2 linked regions of the Homo sapiens genome follow. The protein of the gene in region 1 purifies or fractionates together with the protein of each later gene. This does not show direct contact. Each region holds a gene or a part of one and is shown on either strand. Other genes may lie near its edges. The genes, in order: CFAP210 and DSG4.

Region 1 (11,539 bases):
CACTGAAGCCTTGACTTCCCAGGCTTAAGTGATTCTCCCACCTTAGCATTCTGAGTAGATGGGACTAGGCATACACCACTATGCCTGGCTACTTTAAAAAATTTTTTATAGAGATGGGCTATGTTTCCTAGGCTGGTCTCCAACTCCTGAGGTCAAGCAGTCCTCCTGCCTTGGCCTCCCATGGTTCTGGGATTATAGACATGAGCTACCACAACTGGCCTGTATCAGAGTTCTTAAGGACCAACCTCCTAATAGTGTAAAATATCTTCTAAATGCTCTCCGGTACACAATAAAACATTTGAATGATCAGACTAACTCCAAGCAAATTAAATCCATGATGCAATAACAGTTCGGGAATAAGCACCTGTTGTAGACAGAAGACAGTATTCTGCACTGACTGAGAATACAGTTTTTTAGTGATTGCAATTACCATGACATTTTTCTTGCTTTTATGTCTTCCTCTGTTCCTCTTCTCTCCTTTAAGATCATGTTCTTATTCCTAAGACTTCTTCTCTATACCCAAATTAGTAAAGTTATACTCTAAAGAGATATTGTCCTTTCAAACAGGTAACCTACAGCAGCTAATTATTGGGGTCTCTACTGAGAAAAATTCTGTGACTTTTATCTAAATATTTTCAAATGTGAATTTTGGGGAAACTAATATTTATTTGCTTCTCCTACATGGCAAAACTGCCAATTCTGCTATTTGAAAACCCCCAATGACTTTATTTTCTACTATCACTTTTTTCATGTGCTGCCACAAAATGAAAATGTTTAAATATGTTGTACAAATGGTAGCCAACACAAACTTTTTTGTAGTTTTTAAGAGTTTAAAGTTTTAATTTTACATTTTGACCTTTTTTGTAAGGGTGTATGTTATGTGTTTCACCTTTGTTAACATTAAAAACTGTGATGTGTGCATAGAATATTACTTTCTAGGGCTAAATCTCTGATTTCCTGAAGCTTATGTCTTTTTCTTTCTTGATTTACTCCCTCGTCTTGCTATAATACACCTTTGAATAGCTTCCTTAAGAATGGGTGTATGAGAGGTAAAATTTTTTAATTATCTGAAAAGTTTATTTTTTACTCATTTTTATTTATTTTATTATTTTTTAAGGACAAGTATGATAGTATGAAAAGCTTATCTTTTAAAGTCATGCATGATTTACAGTTTGATTGGTTATAGAATTCTGGGTTCAGAATTCAGAATTTTGTATTAATTGTTTCATATTCCTCTGGCATCCAGTATTGCTACTGAAAAGTATGATGCCATTGATGATCTTCATCTGACATATGTAATCATTTTTACTTTTCTTTCTTATTTTTTTTTTGTTTCATTTTGTTTTGAGACAGTTTCACCCTGCCTCCCTGGCTGGAGTGCAGTGGCATGATCTTGGCTCACTGCTGCAACCTCTGCCTCCTGGGCTTAAGCACTTCCTGTGCCTCAGCCTCCCGAGTAGCTGGGATTACAGGCATGTGCCACATACCCGGCTAATTTTTGTACTTTTAATAGAGACAGGGTTTCGCCATGTTGACTAGGCTGGTCTCGAACTCTTGGCCTCAAGTGATCTGTCCGCCTTGGCCTCCTGAAGTGCTGTGATTACAAGCATGAGCCACTGTGCCCAGCCATTTTTCTTTTTTTCTTTTTCTTCTTTCTGTCCGAATGGTTTTAGGGTCCTGTCTTTATCTCTGGTGCTCCAAAATTTTACAGATGTGCCTTGAATTATGTGCCTTCATTCATTTTTCTGGGCATTCAGTTGATGCTTTTATTCTGTAAACATATTTCTTTCATCCTGAGAACTTTTATTGTTTTATTTCTTAGATAATTTTGTCCCCTCCCATTTTATCTTTCTATTGTTCTAGAATCCCTCTGATAGACATTGGATTTTTTGAAATAATGCTCTAATGTCTAAGAATCTTTTCTCATTAGTTAAGAGAAGGCTTAAATGCATGTGATAGAAAACCCAAAATAATATACAGGTTTAAAGTGCAGGGGTGTCTGGTAATGGCAGCTATAGAATTAACAGGGACTAAGACACCTTCGACACCTTCTTCTCTTTTTTTTTTACTCTGTTCTTTTTTTTTTTTTTTTTTTTTTTGAGATGGAGTCTTATTCTGTCACCCAGGCTGGAGTGCAGTGGCATGATCTCAGCTCACTGCAACCTCTGCCTCCCAGGTTCAAGCAATTCTCCCTGCCTCAGCCTCCCAAGTAGCTGGGATTACAGGCACCCACCGCCATACCCCACTAATTTTTGTGTTTTTAGTAGAGATGGGTTTTCACCATGTTGGCCAGGCTGGTCTTGAACTCCTGACCTCAGGTGATCTGCCTGCCTCAGCCTCCCAAAGTGCTGGGATTACAGGTGTGAGTCACCACGCCCGGTCTACTCTGTTATTCTTTGTACATAGATGGCATCTGTTCTCAAGTTTGCCTCATGGCCCTGAATAGCTGCTGGAGTTTTAGCCCTCATCTCCACATTCTGGATAGCAAGAAAGAAGAAAGGATGAAGGTCAAAAGGGAGTACTCTATTTCCTGTCTCCTTCTCCTCCTCCTCCTCCTCCTCCTCCCGCACCTCCTTCTCCACCACCTTCTCCTCCTCCTCCTTCTCTACTTCATCTTCCTCCTCTTCCTTCTCTTCCTCGTCCTCCTCCTTCTCTACTTCATCCTCCTCCTCCTCTTCCTCCTCTTTCCTCTTTCTTCTTCCTTTTTCCTCCTCTTCCTCTCTTCTCCTTCTCCTCCTTCTTCTTCTTCCTCTTCTTCCTCTTCCTCTTTTTTTGAGACAGGGTCTCACTCTGTTTCCCAGGCTGGAGTGCAGTGGCACGATGTTGGCTCACTGCAGCCTTGACTTCCTGGGCTTAAGTGATCCTCCCACCTCAGCCTGCCTGGTAGCTGGGACTACAGGCATGTGCTGCCATACCTGTCTAATTTTTGTGGTCTTTTTTGTAGAGATGGTTCTGGTATGTTGCCCAGGCTGTTCTCCTTTTAAGGAATTTTCCAAGAAGTCCCACTTAACAGTTTTCCCTGAATCTCATTGGTCATAATTTTGTTACACCTGGCTGAAAAGAAAGCTGCACATGTAGTCTTTCAGCTGAGCATATTTCTACCCTGAATAAAATCTGGGTCCTGCTGCTAACGAAGCTTAGGCAACTAATTGTTTCTGCCGTTTTCTTTTTGTTCTACTGAGTTTCAACTTTGTATTCTAAGTCTTCTATTAATTTTTTTATTTTAGCTATGAAAATTTTAATTCCTAAGACTTTTACTTGAAATGTTGTTATTGTTTTCATTAAAATCTGATTATTGGTTAAGGGGTGGAATAATTTTTATGTCTCCAAGTAGGCTTGGAGTAGGACAGACCTAGTTTTTAATGCTAACTCTGCCATTTACTGGCTATATGACCTTGAGCTTAAGCTTTCAATATTGAAAAATGAGAATTAACTCTGTGTTAATCAAATCTGTATTTTTTGTATTATAAAAAGTCTTTGTGAATATTAGAATAAACTTGGAGAAAACAGCAAAATAAAACATGTAAGGAATTATCCAAAACACTTTTAACAGTTTGCTGTTTGCTTTAGTTTTTCATATTGATCATATTGACCAATATATTTCCTATCCAGATTACAGGCTTTTAAAATTAACCCATAAAATAGGAGATTAGTTAAGAGTGCTGGGCACATAGTAGACCCTGAGTTATAAATATATTGGAAGATTAAGTGATGCCCCTAACAACTTTTACCTTGAATTGGTTTCTACTTACATAATAACAGAATATGCCAGGCACGGTGGCTCGTGCCTGTAGCCCCAGCTACTCTGGTGGCTGAGGTGGGAGTTTCCCTTGAGCCCCAGAGTTCAAGGCTTTCATGAGCTGTGATCATGCCACTGCACCCTGGGCAACAGACACCCTGTCTAAATAACAGAATATACTAATATATCTATATATTCAGGCTATTGTGCTCAATGGCATCTGTTTTTATGATGGCTAACTCAGGCTGAGATCATAGAACATATGCTAATATGAACAGATTTTACTTTTTGTTTTAAATACTAGTGACCTACTTTTACAATTTTTGTTAGAATACATATCTGTTTTTTCTTATATGTATGCAAAAGCAAAGTTTGGACAAGAAACTAGCAATAGTGATTTGAGTCTGGAGGGAGGATTAGGAAGAGACATAGTGGATGGAGTGGAAGGACGCTCGCTACACTGTGTATGTAAAAAAACATTTTTGGTTTTTGAACCATATGACTATTCAAACATTAAATGAACTTTATATTATATATATATATTTGGTGTATTTTTTCTTATACAATTATTTTAAATTGTATACTTTAAAGACATGAGATACTTGAAGAGAAATACAGAAAAGCATTAAGAAGATATAAAAGTTACCTATTATCTCATACCCCAGGGATAACTACTGTTAACATTTGACACATTTCTTCCAGTCATTTATACATTATAAAGTTGTACTTACATGTATTTGTGAAATTGGAATATACTATGTAATGTTACATATTCTGCTTTCCCCCACCTACTTATTGATTATATTATTTGAATCACATCTCATGTAATTGAGAGTATGATTTATTTAACTATATTCTCAATGATTATTCTCTATGATTGAATATTTAGAGGTTGTTTCCATTTTTTTGCTATTATAAATAACTTTGAGATAAATTACATGACACATAAACCTTTATGCACTTCTCTGATCATCTCTTTGGGATAAAATTTCCAGGAGAGAAATAACTGGGTCAGAAGCTGTGACCATTTGACAGGTTCTTGTTAGCTACTGATATGTTGAAAGATATTTTTCTTTGTGATAAGTTAATATATACAATTTTTCCCCCAAGGAACATATGCAGGATAAACATATTATCAAAGCTGTAGAACAGCAGCAGCAAGAGGAAGAAGATGAAAAGATGAGAAAATTCATCAAAGCAAAAAAGCGTCTTATACAAATGGGGAAAGAAAAAGAGGCTGAAACACACAGGTAGGCTTTAATAATGTGTATAATAAAGTACTATCTGAAATTATTATGATTTTATGATTATTATGACAGTAGTCTTTAGGAACAGAGATCTTATTTTATATATGACTAGAGCATTCAGTGACTTGATTTCAGTTTGGGACGTGGGTGTGAGGACATCATCTTGTAGATGGTCAGAAATGCTGATCTGCCATCCCAGAGGAAGTATGAGCTGAAGATGGCTTTGTGAGTCATTGGTATATAAGTGGTAGTTGGAGTTGTCGATACAGATGAGCTCACCTAGGGTGAGTAGGTAAGAAATGAAGGTGGCATAGTCCCTAGGGAACTCCATTTAAAAGTCAAATGGAAAAAGAAGATAACACGAAGACCAATAAATAGTTTCCAGAGATTGGAGGAAAACCAGGGAAACATCAGAGAGAAGACTCTCAGTAAGAAGGGAGCAGTCATCAGTATTAGGTCGTAATGGGATTAAGTACAATTTTTAAAATGAAGTATTCATCAGATTTAGAGGACATTGCTTATATTAGTGAGCAGTTTGGTATGGGGTGTAGAGGTAAGAGTAGGAGGCCAGATTGCAGTACAGGGGGTTTCTGTCTAAATCATGCTTTCCCCTTGTGCAAAATCCTCTGATGGCTTCACATCTCACTTAGTCTTTACAATGGCCCATAAGGCTCTCCACCTACCCAAATTTCCATCTTCCCAGCTCATCCCTCCCAGCCTTATCCCTCAGACCTCTTCTCTTACTATTCCCTCCTCTCCCTCTTCTCACCTGCACTGGACTGGCCTCTGCCTGCTCTAAGGAATGCTCACCTCCAGAGAGCACGTAACTTGCTTTCTTAACTCTTTCAGATCTGTACTTAAATATTACCTTCTCATTGAGGCTTTCTCTGACTACTTTATTTAAAATTATACCCCCTCCCCAATTGCTTATCACTTTACCTGCTTTCCTCGCCCTCGTTGCTTGATATATAGCACTATATATATATACATACATATATATACACACATACATATATATATATATATATATATATATATATATATATATTTTTTTTTTTTTTTTTTTTTTTTTTTTTTTGAGACGGAGTCTTGCTCTGTCGCCCAGGCTGGAGTGCAGTGGCGCGATCTCGGCTTACTGCAAGCTCCACCTCCCGGGTTCACGCCATTCTCCTGCCTCAGCCTCCCAAGTAGTTGGGACTACAGGAGCCCGCCACCAGGCCCGGCTAGTTTTTTTTTTGTAATTTTTAGTAGAGACGGGGTTTCACCGTGTTAGCCAGGATGGTCTCGATCTCCTGACCTCGTGATCCGCCCGCCTCGGCCTCCCAAAGTGCTGGGATTACAGGCGTGAGCCACTGCGCCCGGCTATTTTTTAAAACTATTTATTTTGTTTACTGTCCCTCTCCTCCAGCAATCATGAAAGCCCCATGAGGGCAGAGATTTTTATTTTTATTAAAACTTTTTTTTAGAGATGAGGTCTTGCTATGTTGCCCAGGGTGGAGGACAATGACCATTCACAGGCGTGATCACAGTGCCCTGTAGCCTCAACCTCATAGCCTCAAGGGATCCTTCTATCTTAGCCTCTTGAGTAGTTGGGACTAAAGGTGCGCACCACCATGCCCAACTTCTAATGTTTTTGTTCACTGTTATGTCTGTCCCCAGCACCGGGAATAGTGTCAGGAGCATAGTAAGCAATCAATAAAACTGTTTAAAATACTATTTTTTGGAATTCTACCAGAAATGTCACCTTTTCTCTGAAGGCTTTCTTTTTTTCTCATTTGTCCATATCATTTTCTAGCTTTCTCATGGCATTTATTATCTTTTGTCTTCTATAACTATAAAGACATTTGCATAAATGTCTTTTCTCCACTTTAAATTGTAATTTCCTTGGAGTATGCACTGTATCCTTTCTCATCATTTCTCACATGCTGCTTTGCCAATTCACTAAGTGAATTTGTCACAACAAAATTATTTTTTATGCAATTTCATAAATAAAAATGCCCTAATTTAACAAGATGTATTCTTATGATGTACCAGGCACATGCTTAGGCTCTTAACTAGAGAGAGGACCCATTCAATTTCTGACCTGAGGAATCTCATAGTGAATTTGAGAGGCCAAAGTAGGAGGATTGCTTGAGGCCAGGAGTTTGAGACCAGCCTGGCCAGCATAGCAAAATCCTGTCTCTTAAAAAAAAAAAAAAAAAAGGAACCTTATAGTGTAAAGGGAGAAATTTAAACAGATCAAGTTAAAAAAGTGCTGTGAATAAATTCCAGACAGAGTATTGTGAGGGGATGGATATTTAGGATTTTGATAACTTTTATTAGATTATTTCCTTGATTTTATTTAAATAAAGGCCTTTTATAGCCTCAGCCTCCAATGATAGAGTAAGCAGGGTAGTCTGATAAAATATTGAAATATTTTCTGTGGCCAGGTGCAGTGGCTCACACCTGTAATCCCAGCATTTTGGGAGGCTGAGGCGGGCGGATCACTTGAGGTCAAGAGTTCAAGACCAGCCTGGGTACATGGTGAAACTCCCTCTCTACTAAAAATAAAAAAACTAGCTGGGCTGAGGCAGGAGAATCGCTTGAACCCAGGAGGTGGAGGTTGCAGTGAGCCAAGATTGTGCCACTGCACTCCAGCCTGGGTGACAGTGAGACTCAGTCTCAAAAAAAATTTTTTTTCTTTTTTTTTAATAGAGTCTCACTCTGTCACTCAGGCTGGAGTACAGTGGTACATAGCTCACTGCCACCTTGAACCCCTGGGCTCAAGCAGTCCTCCTGCCTCAGCCTCCTGAGTAGCTGGGACTACAGGTCCGTGCCACTGCGCTTGGCTAAATTTTTTTTTTTTTTTTTTCAGACAGAGTCTTGCTCTGTCGCCCAGGCTGGAGTGCAGTGGTGTGATCTCGGCTGACTGCAACCTACGCCTCCTAGGTTCAAGCGATTCTCATGCCTCAGCCTCCTGAGTAGCTGGGATTACAGGCGCCTGCCACCACGCCCGGCTAATTTTTGTATTTTTAGTGGAGACAGGGTTTCACCATGTTGGTCAGGCTAGTCTCGAACTCCTGACCTCGTGATGTGCTCGCCTCAGCCTCCCAAAGTGCTGGGATTACAGGTATGAGCCACCACGCCCAGCTTAAAAAATTTGTGGAGATGGGGTCTTGCCATCTTGCCCAGGCTGGTCTCTTAACTCCTGGGCTCAAGCGATCCTACCACCTCAGCCTCCCAAAGTGTTGGGATTACAGGCATGAGCTACCACACCTGGCCTAAAATATTTTTCAGTGTAGATAATTTTAAGATCTTATTTCTTAAACACACACACACACACACACACACACACACACACACAGATTATACATATTACTGTCTTTGGATTTTAGAATATATGTTACTTTATAGTTAAAAAATAATGTCCACTTAAAATAATATATGTAAGGAGCAATGGGGCTCCTGTTAGTTTTGTAAGAGACTGCAAAATATCTCAGATTCCCTAATTAAATTATGTTGGCTCCATTGGACATGTGTTCATGAAGATTTGACGAGTATGGTTATTTTGTTATAGGCTTATGGAGAAACGAAGAGAAAGAATACATAACTTCCTGAGTGAACTGTTGAAAGAGAAACTTGACAATGAAGATATGATTATTGCTAGAGATATTGCAGAAGCTGAGGCTGAATGGGAAAAAAGAGAAAGAGAAAAAGATGAAAAAAACAAAGCAGAATTAAAAACAATTGCAGAATATCGAGCCATTGTGGTAAACAATTCAATTATGAAAATAAAAATAGAAAGACAGAGTTAGGACCTTTCCACTGTGTTTTCCATCTCATCTGCCTCTCTAACCAAAAACTAGCCAAGATATTAAAAACAATGTATGAATTATCTTCCTGTATTTTTGAAATTGGACAATGTTTACTTCCTAACAAAGATGACACGACAGTTACAAAAAAGATATTTATAGATGCAAAGTAATAATCTCTTCTGTTTCAGAACCATCTGAAACGCAAAGGTTATTTGTTATACTTTTCATTTGTAGGTTTTAAAGACAAACCATGTAAAAATTATACATTTCTGTTTCTTAATATTTTAAAACATATCTTACATGACTGTCATAACATTTAATTTGGATAGTTTATACACATTGGAGCAATTTTTTTTTTTTTGAGACAGAGTTTTGCCCAGGCTAGAGTGCAGTGGTGCGATCTCAGCTCACCTCAACCTTCGCCTCCTGGGTTCAAGCAATTCTCCTGCCTCAGTCTCCAGAGTAGCTGAGATTACAGGCATGCGCCACCATGACTGGCTAATTTTGTATTTTTAGTAGAGACAGCGTTTCTCCATGTTGGTCAGGCTGGTCTCGAACTCCTGACCTCCCGAGGTGATCCGCCCACCTCGGCCTCCCAAAGTGCTGAGATTACAGGTGTTGAGCCACCAAGTATGGCTGGAGCAATTAATTTTTTACTTACATATATTTCCCTTCCTTGAGAAGATCTTGCTTTTCATCTTTTTCAAGCCAATAAGGATTGTCCTATAGCACTTGGGTATTTTCTGATATTCAGGAAATAGAACAAAACCAAAGTAAACTGGCCGCATGGGAACCACCCCAGGTGCATGCACTTTTCTGCTCCTGCATTGCTCCTGGCTGACTCTCCTCTGCTTCAACTCTCTGACTCTGTGCCTTTTCAGACAAGACTGGTTGCTATAACTGGTTTTATATGTTTCCTTTGCCTTTAAACATCTAGATGAAAAATAAAGAGGAAGAAGAAAGACAAAGAAAAATAGAGGCTAAAGAACAATTGCTGGCTGTCATGAAAGCAGATCAGATTTTCTGGGAACATGAAAAGGAGAAAAAATGCAAAGCTGATAAAGAACATCAAGAGGTTCAAGATGCCCATATTCAGCAAATGGTAATTACTCCTGAATGTTTATAATTATGTTAGTAATAAGTATATAATACAGAATTCATGCTAGTTTTCTACTCCCAAGCAGTTTCATCAGGTAAGAAAAAAATGGTCATTATGGTTATGACACAATAAAATGTATTAAAAATGTGAGGTTTGTTTCTATCTCCAGTGAAGTTCCCATGTGAGTTTTATCTTTTAAATGAATGTTTATCCTTCTTTAGTGTCTATTATACTTCAGTAAATATTAAAGAAAATACAAATGCATGTGGAGGCCATAATGTTCATCTTGTTTTACTTTTTTCCCATATCTCAGAGACTATGTTGATTGCGATCTCATAGGTTTCAGATTTGAGGAATGGAGATATCAGATTTTAAAAGATGTGTAGAGGACCTAGCATCCAATCATTTGTAACTAAAACCTGTTTTTGAAATGGTTGTACCATTTTCCATTCCTACCAGCAATGTATGCAAGCACAACTTACTCCACATACTCATCAACACTTGATAGTCATCCCTTAATTTTAACTATTCTAGTATAGTGATATCTTATGGCTTTATTTTACATTTCTCTAATGACCAAAGATAATGGACATTTTTTTCACATCCTTGCTAGCCATCTGCATACCTTCTTTTGTGAAGTGTCTATTTAAGAGTGTTGCCAATTTTTAATTGGGTTGTTTTCTTAGTGCTGAGTTTTTTAAAATTGATTTTTATTGTGGTAAAATATACATAACATAAAAAGTACCATTTTAAGCATGGTTAAGTGTACAGTTCAGAGGCATTGAGTACATTCACATTGATCATGGCCACTATACATCTCCAGGGTTTTTCATCATCCTGTACTAAAACTCTGTACATGTTAAACAGTAACTCCCTATCCCCTCTTTTCTCCAGTCTGAGTAACCTCTGTTTTACTATCTCAATGGATTTGATTATTCTAGGTACCTCATAAATGGAATCAGACAATATTTGTCCTTTTCTGTTTGGTTTTCACTTTTTTTTTTTTTTTTTTTTTTTTTTTTGAGACAGAGTTTTGCTCTGTTGCCCAGGCTGGAGTGCAGTGGCATGATACCCACTCTCGGCTCAGTGCAACCTCTGCCTCCAGGGTTCAAGCAATTCTCCTGCCTCAGCCTCCCAAGTAGCTGGGATTACAGGTGCCCACCACCACGCTGGGCTAATTTTTGTATTTTTAGTAGAGATGGGGTTTCACCATGTTGTCCAGGCTGGTCTCGAACTCCTGACCTGAAGTGCCCACCTTGGCTTCGGCCTCCCAAAGTGCTACGACTACGCATGAGCCACTGTGCCCGGCCTCCATTTTTGAATTGGATTTTTTGTTGTTGGGTTTTAGAAGTTTTAAAAATACTCTGTGTATTAAATCTCTTATCAGATACATGATTTGGAAATGTCTTCTTCCATCCCATGAGTTACCTTTTTACTCCATTGATAGTATCTTTGATGTATAAAAGTTTTAAATTTTTGGCCAGGTGCCAAAATAGTTTGTTGTTTCAATCACGATCAAATAAGATCAGTATTTGGAATCCTTCTGATTTACTTGTTGAAGTCTTTAAGAAGTTTTCTTGATCAAATACTTGGTTCCTCTTAGGTACAATTTTTAAAGAAAAAAACAGAATACTTGATTTTTTTTGCCTTATTTTCCAGT
Region 2 (11,539 bases), on another chromosome or scaffold:
TTTGTTTTTACCATCAAACCTTTAGCTCTTTTCAACAAAACCACTTTAATATTTTTTAAAGTTAATCATGTTAAAGCAATTCCATTAATATCAAGTCAACTCTGAATTCACCATCTCCTATAAAGCTCAATAGCCCATTCATAAACAATAATAATTGCTAACCACTTTTTTCCTCATTCGGATCCTAGATATTATGATTACACATGTAAGAAAAAATGTTCTGCATGGAGGTATAATATTATAGCTATTACAGGTTTGCCAATAAAAAATATAACCACACTGGAGATGATATTCCTAGAGACCTGTTTCAATGCTTGCTGGTGTTTTAGAACAGAATGAATTTCACTTAATGTGCTGTGGCATTGCCTTATCTCATTTTTACCTTGTGCACAGGTTAGATTTTGGTGGACATAGCTGGCTTGCCATCTAGCTAACTGAGGATAATAAACCATCATAATAAAAAATATTGTGTGCTATGGATCAATCAGTTACTATTCATGGTTTAGCTGTAAATTTAATCATCTCAACACTCCTTGTATTAATAAATAAATTCCAATGAATATTTTAGACAATATGTTTTATGAAAATTCATAGGCAATGATAGCACAAAGAATTAGGAGAATGTGAACAATTTTAAATGAAAGGGCAACAATTTTGAGTAAGATACATATAAACAGTCTTAAGGAGGGTATTGTGTAAACTGTAATCCTAAATAGAAGACTTCTAATATTTTCTTTCAGCTCAATATTATTTATTCATTGGGCAAATATTTATTGAATGTATATTATATGCCAATTACTGTTGCTCTGGAAAGATGCAGCAAGGTCCTTGCCTGCATTATAGAAGTAGCAATCCAGCAGTAAGCAATACTTATTTAAAAATTAGTTATAAATGTTAAAAAAAAAAAGAAAGAAAGAAAAGTAAAAAAGGCCAGGCAGAATGGCTCATGCTTGTAATCCAAGCACTTTAAGAGGCCAAGGCAGGTGGATTGCTGGAGCCCAGGAGTTCAAGACCACCCTGGGCAATATGGCAAAACCCTGTCTCTACTAAATGTATATATATTAGCCAGGCATGGTGCCACACACCTGTAGTCCCAGCTTCTCAGGAGACTGAGGTGGGAGAATCACTTAAACCTAGGAATCCAAGGCTGCAGTGAGTCATGTTCGTGCCACTGCACTCCAGCCTGGGCAATAGGAATGAGACTCTGTCTCAAAAATAACAAGAATAATAATAATAATAATAAATTAAATAAATGTTAAAAAAAAGTACAAGGTGCTTTATGACTAAGAAAGCATGAAAAATCTAGTGTTTTAAGTCAATATTTGGTATTAGGGAGAGTTAACCACCCCCCTAGCCCACCAAGGAATTTCCATTTATTTTCTGTTTCCTCTCTTCCATTTCAGCTACCTCGGCAATCCTTACGGCTAAGCAGGTTTTATCTCCAGGATTTTATGAAATCCCAATCCTGGTGAAGGACAGCTATAACAGAGCATGTGAATTGGCACAAATGGTGCAGTTATATGCCTGTGATTGCGATGACAACCACATGTGCCTGGACTCTGGTGCCGCGGGCATCTACACAGAGGACATAACTGGTGACACGTATGGGCCTGTCACTGAAGACCAAGCTGGAGTTTCAAATGTTGGTCTTGGACCAGCAGGGATTGGCATGATGGTTCTGGGCATCCTGCTACTGATTTGTAAGTACTCAATTAAATCCTTCTTTTCAATAGTTCTTCAAAATAGGGCTGTTACGAGGCTCGCTGGGATGGTTAGGTTCATGGAGCCATTTCTTTTTGGTATCTCTAGCAATTTTTGAGTGCCTTAGAAATAAACAATGGGACTGACAAATATATGCGCTTAATCCACAATGATAACTAAGAAAGCCTAGGGTGAGTGACAGTCCTAAAAATGGGAAACACATGCAAATCACTACATATACTACCTAAAAGCACAAAACAAATCCCATCATGGAAATTTCCTTAAAATGCTTTAAGAGTAGAGAGGCAGAAGCAATTAAGTCCATGTGGAAAAGTTAGGACAATCTTTTGGAAAAGTGGATTTTGAGGTGAGCCTGAAAAGCTGAGGATTTTTTTTTTCTTTTTTTCTTTTTCTTTTTTTTGAGATGGAATCTTGCTCTATTGCCCAGGCTGGAGTGCAGTGGCGCAACCTCGGCTCACTGCAACTTCTGCCTCCCAGGTTCAAATGATTCTCCTGCCTCAGCCTCCCGAGTAGCTGGGACTACAGGCGCCCACCACCACGACTGGCTAATTTTTGTACTTTTAGTAGAGACGGGGTTTCACCATGATAGCCAGGATGGTCTTGAACTCCTGACCTCGTGGTCCACCTGCCTTGGGCTCCCAAAGTGCTGGGATTACAGGCATGAGCCACTGCACCCTGCTGAGGATTTCTTTTAAAGGAGGATGATGTCTAAGGAAATTTGAAAGGTAATCAAACACACACACACAAAAAAAAACCACACACACAAACAAAAGGGAGCAAGATATGGAAGAGCATAGCACACCTAGGAAGCAGAGAGGCAAAAGGGAGTCTGGGAGCCAGCATGGAGGCATGTTCATGACACACCAGGCATTCTGGGCTTCAGTACAATGGCACAGAAGAGTTGATGAGGGCTGATGAGCGCAGGTGACCCTGCGGTAGGAAGCAAGTAGAAGAGACTAGAACAGAGAATTAGCCTCTGGGCTCTGGGTGAGTGCCTAAACTAAGACTGGTCACAGAAGTGGAAAGATCACCAAACAAAAATTTCCCAAAAAGGGCCCTCCTTTCCCCATAGAGTTTTTTTAAACATATAGATCCTCAGAGGAAGAATACTTCATACATTTTAGGTTGCCCTTGCAATATTTAGGTTTCATGGGGATCAAAAGCTGGGTTCTAAAATTAAAGAGAAGTAAATTTGTCAAACTGTATTGTTGCTGTTTTCAGGGATGAGCACTAATTAAAATGTAATCATTTCAAGGCATAAAAAATAACAGCTGACTTTTGGTGAGGATTTCTTTTTTGAAATAATCTGTGAGGTTTCAAAGCTATGCAAAGATCATGAGTGATTCTCACAATGATATTAGACACATTTTCCCAGAATATAACTCTACAGCAATTGAGTAGTGGTTTCGGGTAAGCTTTGAGTTAGCGGTTCTCAACCCTAGTTGTACATAAGAATTAGTTAAAGGTCTTCCAAAATTACTCATACTAGAGTCATACTCAAGATGAGACCAAGCATCAGCATGTTCAAGCCCTTTGGTGAGACTAATGTGCAGTTCAGGGCTAAAAACCCAGTGCCAGCTGCATTTCCAGAACGTTAGCACTAAGAATTTCAAGACTTTTTCCTGACCCAGACAAAGAAAGCATGAGAGTTGTTCAACTGATGGATTGTAGAATAGGAGAGGAATACCCCTATGGACACTTGTTTTCAATGGAGAAGCCCATGGTCTATTTTAGGAGAGAGGGGGCAGTGTGATGGTAGTGGGAGGGATCTGAGCCCAAACCTATGTTCCCAAAGGGCCTCAAATTGACACTTTTGATGTTAGCTCCAAATGAGATTACACATACAGTAATTGTATTGGGTATGTGCTAAAAACACTTCATTTCATTTATTAGATAGTGCCTTTGTTAGAGTTCAGGCCTGCAATGGTACATGATCCAGCTCACATTTAAATTCACAGAAATATAGAATAGGCAGAACCATGGCCTAGGGGCTACCAATTTTAGTTTTAGTCCTTTTCCAGAAAATGCTATGGAAATGTATAACTTGACCTTTCACTGTTCATAGTGCAGATGGCAAAATTGCCAAATTAATTGTTGTAATAAGACTAAAGCTGATTTTGCAACTTTGATAGTCTCTTCTTTTGTATCTGTTTTTAATTTTTAATTTTTGTGGGTACATAATAGGTGTACATATTTATGGGGTACATTAGCTGCTTTGATACAGGCATGCAATGTGAAATAATCACATCCTGGAGAATGGGGCATCCATCCCCTCAAGCATTTATCCTTCTATTCTTTATCTTTAATTAACCCACTTAGTAAAATGCATGCCATGCTAGAGAATTAGGAAAGTATGAAAAGCAACCAGAGTGGGCCCAAAGAACTAAACAGAGTGTATTCTAGAATCTTAGAAAACTTAAGCAGTGTCTATATTTATGGATTAAAATACAGAATTGAGGTGATTATTAGGGTAACAAATAGGAAATTTCCTCTTAAGAAACACTTGGATAGCTAAACATTTTTGATAGCTTTAATTTTTCATTATAGTCTATAAACAAAGTCTTAAAATAATTGTAAATATCTCCATTAAATTTAGTGAGTATTATTTGACTTCTATTTTAAGTGTAACTGTAATAAGGATTGAAGATAGGTCCTATCTCCAGGTCCTATAGCTGAATCCTGTATTCAATCCTCTTGATAACATATATTCATGATGCGTTTAACTTACATGTATGTGTGCATCTGCCCCAACCAGTTCAAGAGTCTTAGACTAAAGACGACCTTACTTTCCTAATCTGTCAGCAAAGAAATTCAATTACCTGATCGCAAACTCCTTGCCATCTAGCGCTAAAGTTCTATGTGATTTGGTGGTGCTGTATTTATAAACTTGGATATGTATACTCAATCCCCTAAAGGAAAAAAATGAGATTTTCTTACATATATTTGTATTTTTGTTCTAAATATACTGCCACCAAATGCTCCCCAGAATGATTCATCCAGTGACTTCCTAAACCGAGCAATGTGTGTTAACTCGACATTGTCACTTTCTTGGGCAGTGGCTCCACTCTTGCTGCTCCTGTGTTGCTGCAAACAGAGACAGCCAGAAGGCCTGGGAACAAGATTTGCTCCTGTGCCTGAGGGCGGAGAAGGAGTGATGCAGTCTTGGAGAATTGAAGGGGCCCATCCCGAGGACAGGGTAAGTGGACTGTCACTCTCCAGAGAAGTGTGGAGTTTCAGTGGAAATTGAGCATGTCTTAACAATTACATGCTGCACAAAAATGAACAGATGTCAGTTTTTAAATGTTTAACATAAAGCGTTTGTTTTTAAAATGTTTATTTTTCTTTTCAGGATGTGTCAAATATATGTGCACCCATGACAGCCTCAAATACCCAGGATCGGATGGATTCCTCTGGTCAGTAGACACCAAAATCTGTTTTTCCTTTTAAATTTTTCAAAATTATTCAACCAGACCAACTTCATGTAAAAGTACCTTATGGAAAAGTCTGTCAGTCTCTTTGGGTGACAGTATAATTAGAGGGAATGTGACCTGTTTGAAGTAGCCACTTTTTTTTTCTATCTGAAACTACAGACAGTGAAGTATGACACAGCAGTTAAAAGAGCAAACTCTGGAAGCAGAATGCTTGGGTTTGATTCCCAGCTCTGCCACTTGCTTAAGGGTTGCATATCTTTTATCCGAAATGCATAGGACCATGAGTTTGAGTTTGGCTCAAACTTTTTGTACCATGATGATCAAAAAGTTTCAGACTTAGGAGCATTTTGGATTCTTGATTATTGGATTTGGGATGCTCAACCTGTAGTAATAAGTCCTTAGTCAAGACATTTAACCTCACTGGGCCTCAGTTTCCTTATCTTTAAAATTGAGCTTATGATAGTACCTACTTTAAAGTGTTGCTGTGAGGAGTAAATAATACATATTACATATGTAATATATAATACATACATATATTGTATAGATTATTTTATTATATATAACATACATGTGTATGTGTGTCTATATATATACACACACACATATATAAGTGTGTATATATACATATATCACAAAATATACGTTAGAGTAGTGCCTGGCACTGTAGTAATTATTTATAATACAAGCTGTTTTTTTTTAAAGAGCTAAAGAAAAGGCAGTAAATGTACTCTAATAATACACTGAATAACTTTTCTTAACTTCAGACAAGCTTTTGCCTCAAAAGAGTGTCGTAAACTCTCCTATCTTACCAGCCCCACGCATATCTAACAATACTGAACACACTACTTAGCTATATGGCAATGATTGCACCAAACAGAGAGGGTGCTTAATTCTGCAGTGCACGTGAGCTTTCTCTGATGGTTCCTTAGTATCCCAAGCTTGGCCCTTTGTATGCAAAGAAACTCCGTGACTGAACATCCCTGTGAGCCCAGCTCCATCCTGTTCCGGAGTGAAGGAGGACTATGAGCTCAGTTTCTGCAATCACGCCGCTGGCCTTGCTTTGGAGGGCTCCCGGCTGGATCAAGCCCGCAGCAGCCACGGCGGGAACGGGCGCCTGCTTGTAGTTCTCTTGGCTAGTTCTACACCTTTAAGTCTAGGGCGAAGTCTGTGCAAATGTGGGAAGGCCACGTCCCACCACTGACTCCCTCTGTGTAATTAATTTACTTTTATTTGGTCAACAAGCCTGGAGATGTATCGGTGTAACTTGTATCTCTCTTTGTCAGCTTTTTAGCGCCTACGCCTTGCCGGGTGGTGGTGGCACCGCAGACGGCGGCGGCAGCGTTTTAGGCAGATGCGCGCTGCAGGCAACTCCAGCGCTGTTAAACCAACATCCTCCCTTTTCAGAAATCTACACCAACACCTATGCAGCCGGGGGCACGGTGGAAGGAGGTGTATCGGGAGTGGAGCTCAACACAGGTATGGGGACAGCCGTTGGCCTCATGGCCGCAGGGGCCGCAGGAGCCTCAGGGGCCGCAAGGAAGAGGAGCTCTACCATGGGAACCCTGCGGGACTACGCTGACGCAGACATCAACATGGCTTTCTTGGACAGCTACTTCTCGGAGGTAATGCCCTCACAGTCACACATAAAATCGTCTTGAGATTGAATAATAATAATAGTAAAATACTCACAATGGTAGTAGGCCTCTTCGGAAATATGCTGTTATTCTCAACCCTATCCCAAACCTGAATAAAAAGTATTTCACGTCTCCTTAAAACACAAAATGCTAATTTGCCACAGGATTTCATATTCAACTGCCATAGCGCATCTTAGTACCGTGAACAAGGCCACACCCCTCATCATTCTCCACTTCCCTTTTCCATTTTTCTATCTTTTGTTTCCTTGATTCCTCACCTTGTTTCCCACAGCAGTAGCAAAGCAGGAAAATGCTCATCAAGGGGAAAAAAGGTGCATTTATGACCTCTGTTTTTGATGTCCTTCATGTTCTCCCGGAGCCTCCAACAGAAAAGAGAAAATAAAAAGAATTGGGAACGAAAGGAGTTAAAACTCAGGAACGCAGCATCACCACAACTCGTGCTAGATTAAGACCTAGAAGATAGCTCTCCTATTCTCAGTCCAGTGACTTATCCACCAACTGACCTTCACTACGAAAAGGGGTCCAGCAATAGCACTGCTGGGTATATATCCAAAAGAAAGGAAATCAGTATATCAAAGAAATATATGCACCCCCATGTTTATTGCAGCACTAGTCACGTAGCCAATACATGGAATCAACCTGTGTCCATCAACTGATGATTGGACTTCTAAAATGTGATTCATATACCCAATGGAATATTATTCAGCCATAAAAAATGAAATTTTGTCATTTTGCAACAACATGGATGGAACTGGAGGACACTGTTAAGTGAAATATGCCAGGCACAGAAAGACTAATTTGACATGTTCTCACTCATCTGTGGAAGCTAAAAGGAAAAACCGAACTCATGGAGATAGAGAGTAGAATGATGGTTACTAGAGGCTGACAAGGGTAGTAGGGAGGGGAAACAGTGGGATGGTTAATAGGTGCAAAAATACTGTTAGAATGAAGAAGATCTAGTATTTGGTAGCACAACAGGATTGCTATAGTTAACAATAATTTATTACACATTTTAAAAGAACTAAAATAGAACTAGAATTTTATCTCATATTTCAGTCGGCCTGCTTTATTCTCCATCTGTTCATACATGAATTTCACCATGATTCTTTACCAAACAAATGCTGAAGATGTTGTTGCAATTGTAAACTATATCTTAAAATTGGTAGTTACAAATGCTATCACAGAATGTGCATGGATAGTATCAATTATTTTAATGAGTGATTGATACCATTATTCAGTTTATTCCGTAACAACTTAACTCAGAAGTCTCTCTGAGGGATTGCTGTTATTCTTCCTTATTTTAGGGAAAAAGAAATTTCTAATTCTGTATTTCCTTTTAATTTTAGAAAGCGTATGCTTATGCAGATGAAGATGAAGGTCGACCAGCCAATGACTGCTTGCTCATTTATGACCACGAGGGAGTCGGGTCTCCCGTAGGCTCTATTGGTTGTTGCAGTTGGATTGTGGATGACTTAGATGAAAGCTGCATGGAAACTTTAGATCCAAAATTTAGGACTCTTGCTGAGATCTGCTTAAACACAGAAATTGAACCATTTCCTTCACACCAGGCTTGTATACCAATCAGTACTGACCTCCCTTTGCTCGGACCTAATTACTTTGTTAATGAATCTTCAGGATTGACTCCCTCAGAAGTTGAATTCCAAGAAGAAATGGCAGCATCTGAACCCGTGGTCCATGGGGATATTATTGTGACTGAGACTTACGGTAATGCTGATCCATGTGTGCAACCCACTACAATTATTTTTGATCCTCAGCTTGCACCCAATGTTGTAGTAACCGAAGCAGTAATGGCACCTGTCTATGATATTCAAGGGAATATTTGTGTACCTGCTGAGTTAGCAGATTACAACAATGTAATCTATGCTGAGAGAGTACTGGCTAGTCCTGGTGTGCCTGACATGAGCAATAGTAGCACGACTGAGGGTTGTATGGGACCTGTGATGAGCGGCAATATTTTAGTAGGGCCAGAAATTCAAGTGATGCAAATGATGAGTCCAGACCTTCCCATAGGCCAAACCGTTGGCTCCACATCCCCCATGACATCTCGACACAGAGTAACACGATACAGTAACATACATTACACCCAACAGTAAGTGCTTTATGGTCAGTATTCTATGTGGAGACCTTGCACCTTGTAATCATCAATACATCCACCAAAAATATATAATGTACCATATATATTAATAGTCAACAAATACTCAGATATTCTAAGGTCAATGCCATTATTTGATTATACCATTTTGAGGGTGAATATGGCTAGGCACTTTAGATAAGCCTTTTTAAAATTCTTTCTGATTTTAAATAATGCGTCAAAAAATGTGCAGAAAATGTATTGCATCCCTTGATACTGTCTAACGAATAGCACATAACTCATATTGTGAATCCTATGGGTCTTGAGGCCTGTAGAACCAATCTTGTAAACCAAGATGCCTTGTTCTTGGAAGTTACAAAAGAAGCCCTGTCTACATCCACCAGCCATATTTTTCGTTAGGGAAATATTTATATTAAAATTTTTAATTGAAAAGTTGAATGAAATGTACATTCTGAAAGGAAATTGAAAAGGAACGTAGAGTATCTGTCAATATCTTTAGATATCTGAAGTCATTTGTCTCTTCAAAAGATTTTTCAATATTATGCGCTATTAAGCAATAGGAGATGCTTAATATAATAAGAAAAGAGTTTGCCAACTGAAAGCATGGCTGGAAATGGTTCATCAAAGAAAAATATATATTTTTATTGAACTTTATTGATTTATATGATTAACTGTAAATTAATCTAGAATAGCAAAAAAAAATGACAATCCTAAAGTAGAAAGAGTTATTGGGGAAATATTAGAGTTTTCCCCACTTACAGGGAATTTTTTCCCTACTGTTGCCAATTATGTCAGAAAAATACATGAAATATGGCTTAACCAATTTCATTGACCTGAATCGTAGAGCTTTCAATTGGCAACCAGATATTCTCCAAAAGCACTCTGTAGTTATTCATATATTCTACAATATTTACTTAGAAGCAACTAGGTGTTGGGTGCTAGTCTTGGCTCTGTGAATATACAGGTAAAGAAGACAGACATGGTTTCTGCCTTCATAGAGCTTCTATTCATTTCTAGACTTAAAATAAAACTCTGGGATATGGCTTTAAGTTCCTAACAACAATAATTAACCAACTACTTAAGTCCATTACCAAGTTGTGTTTCTCTTTGCAACACTACTGTTTATGTTGAATAAATAAAATGGAAACACATTGCTTACTTTTCGTAGGCATAAAGCTGACTTGAGAAAAAGAATCTCTAGCCAGGTAATTTTACTTAATTCTGTAAAATATGTATACAGTAGCAGCAATAATGTGACTGAGATAATGTAAATGAAATAAACTTATTTTCAAGGCTTAATCCTTTTGAAAGGAAATAATTGTAGTGTTTCTTGCCTATCTTTTGCTCCTTTATGAATAAAACTATTGTAGAATTTAAGTCATCTCAGATAACCTCTTACCTAGTTCTCTCATTTTCTGGACAATGAATCTAGAAATAGAGAGGTTAAATGACCACAACCAGCTAGTTGTGGTACAAAGCCTTGAACCCATTGTTCAGATACGCTAGCCAGTATGCTTTTTTATACTATAACTTCACCAGATCTGAAGAGGATCCAAACCTGCCTGTTGCATACTCTTTGCTATTCCCTAATTGGAAGAAAAACTCTCTCTCAAAAAATTAAGTTTTAAAGTGTAAGCGCAGACCAGCTAAAACATTGTAATGCTAGAAAGTTACTTACATATTTCCTAATATTTTCCAAATTATGTGTACTGCCAGCTGCTACATCCATTTCTCACTTTAGTAAATTTTACTACTCTATAATTGATGAAATCCATGGGGTAGCTAAGGAGCATTGGTCTCATGGTGATTAAACACTCAAGCAACAACCAGCCACATAGCATCTGGCACACACTCCATTCCGTGGCAAATCCTGACATGGATATTTCTCGCTTAAAGTTTGCATTGGATGGCTTTTGTTAAGTCAAAAACTAACACATTGGTGAGACTGCGGAGAAAAGCGGACACTAATACAGTGTTGGTGGGATTGCAAATTAGTCTAGCTACTGTGGAAAATAGTTTGGAGAATTCTCAAGGAACTGGGAGTTGAATAGCCATTTGACCTAGCAATCCCATTACTGGGTATAAACCCAAAGAAAAATAAACTGTTCTACCAACAGGACACGTGTACCCATGTGTTCACTGCAGTGCTATTCACAATAGCAAAAACATGGAATCAATCCAGGTGCCCATCAACAGTGGACTGGACAAAGCAAATGTGGTACATATACACCGTGGACTACTATGCAGCCATAAAAAAGAATGAAGACTGAAGAATGAAATCACGTCCTTTGCAGCAACATGGATGCAGCTGAAGGCCATTATGCTGAGCAAATTAATGCAGGAACAGAAAACCAAATACCTTATGTTCTCACTTATAAGTGGGAGCAAAACATTGGGTTCACATGGACATAAAGATGGACATAATAGACAATGGAGGCTATTAGGGGAAGGAGAGAAGGAGAAGGGCAAGGGCTGAAAAACTGTCTATTGGGTACTACGCTCACTACCTAAGTGACGAGTTCGGTCATACCTCAAACCTCAGCATCATGTGATATAGCTTTGTAACAAACCTGCGCATGTATTCCTTGATTCTAAAATAAAAGTTGAAAAAGAAAAAT

The links.
Region 2: the proteins of CFAP210 (region 1) and DSG4 purify together in Homo sapiens (affinity purification with mass spectrometry; 2 studies listed by BioGRID and IntAct, with this or other methods). This does not show direct contact.

Annotation. Positions count from the first base shown.
Region 1 is NC_000002.12:169,647,525-169,659,063, reverse strand, and holds part of CFAP210 (cilia- and flagella- associated protein 210), read left to right. Parts: intron 1-228; exon of another isoform or gene 229-540; intron 541-4,849; coding exon 4,850-4,989; intron 4,990-8,542; coding exon 8,543-8,735; intron 8,736-9,717; coding exon 9,718-9,882; intron 9,883-11,539. UniProt on the Homo sapiens protein: Microtubule inner protein (MIP) part of the dynein-decorated doublet microtubules (DMTs) in cilia axoneme, which is required for motile cilia beating.
Region 2 is NC_000018.10:31,404,674-31,416,212, forward strand, and holds the end of DSG4 (desmoglein-4 isoform 2 preproprotein), read left to right. Parts: intron 1-1,403; coding exon 1,404-1,700; intron 1,701-4,778; coding exon 4,779-4,918; intron 4,919-5,071; coding exon 5,072-5,135; intron 5,136-6,436; coding exon of another isoform or gene 6,437-6,557; coding exon 6,558-6,775; intron 6,776-8,154; coding exon 8,155-8,922; 3' UTR 8,923-10,236; downstream 10,237-11,539.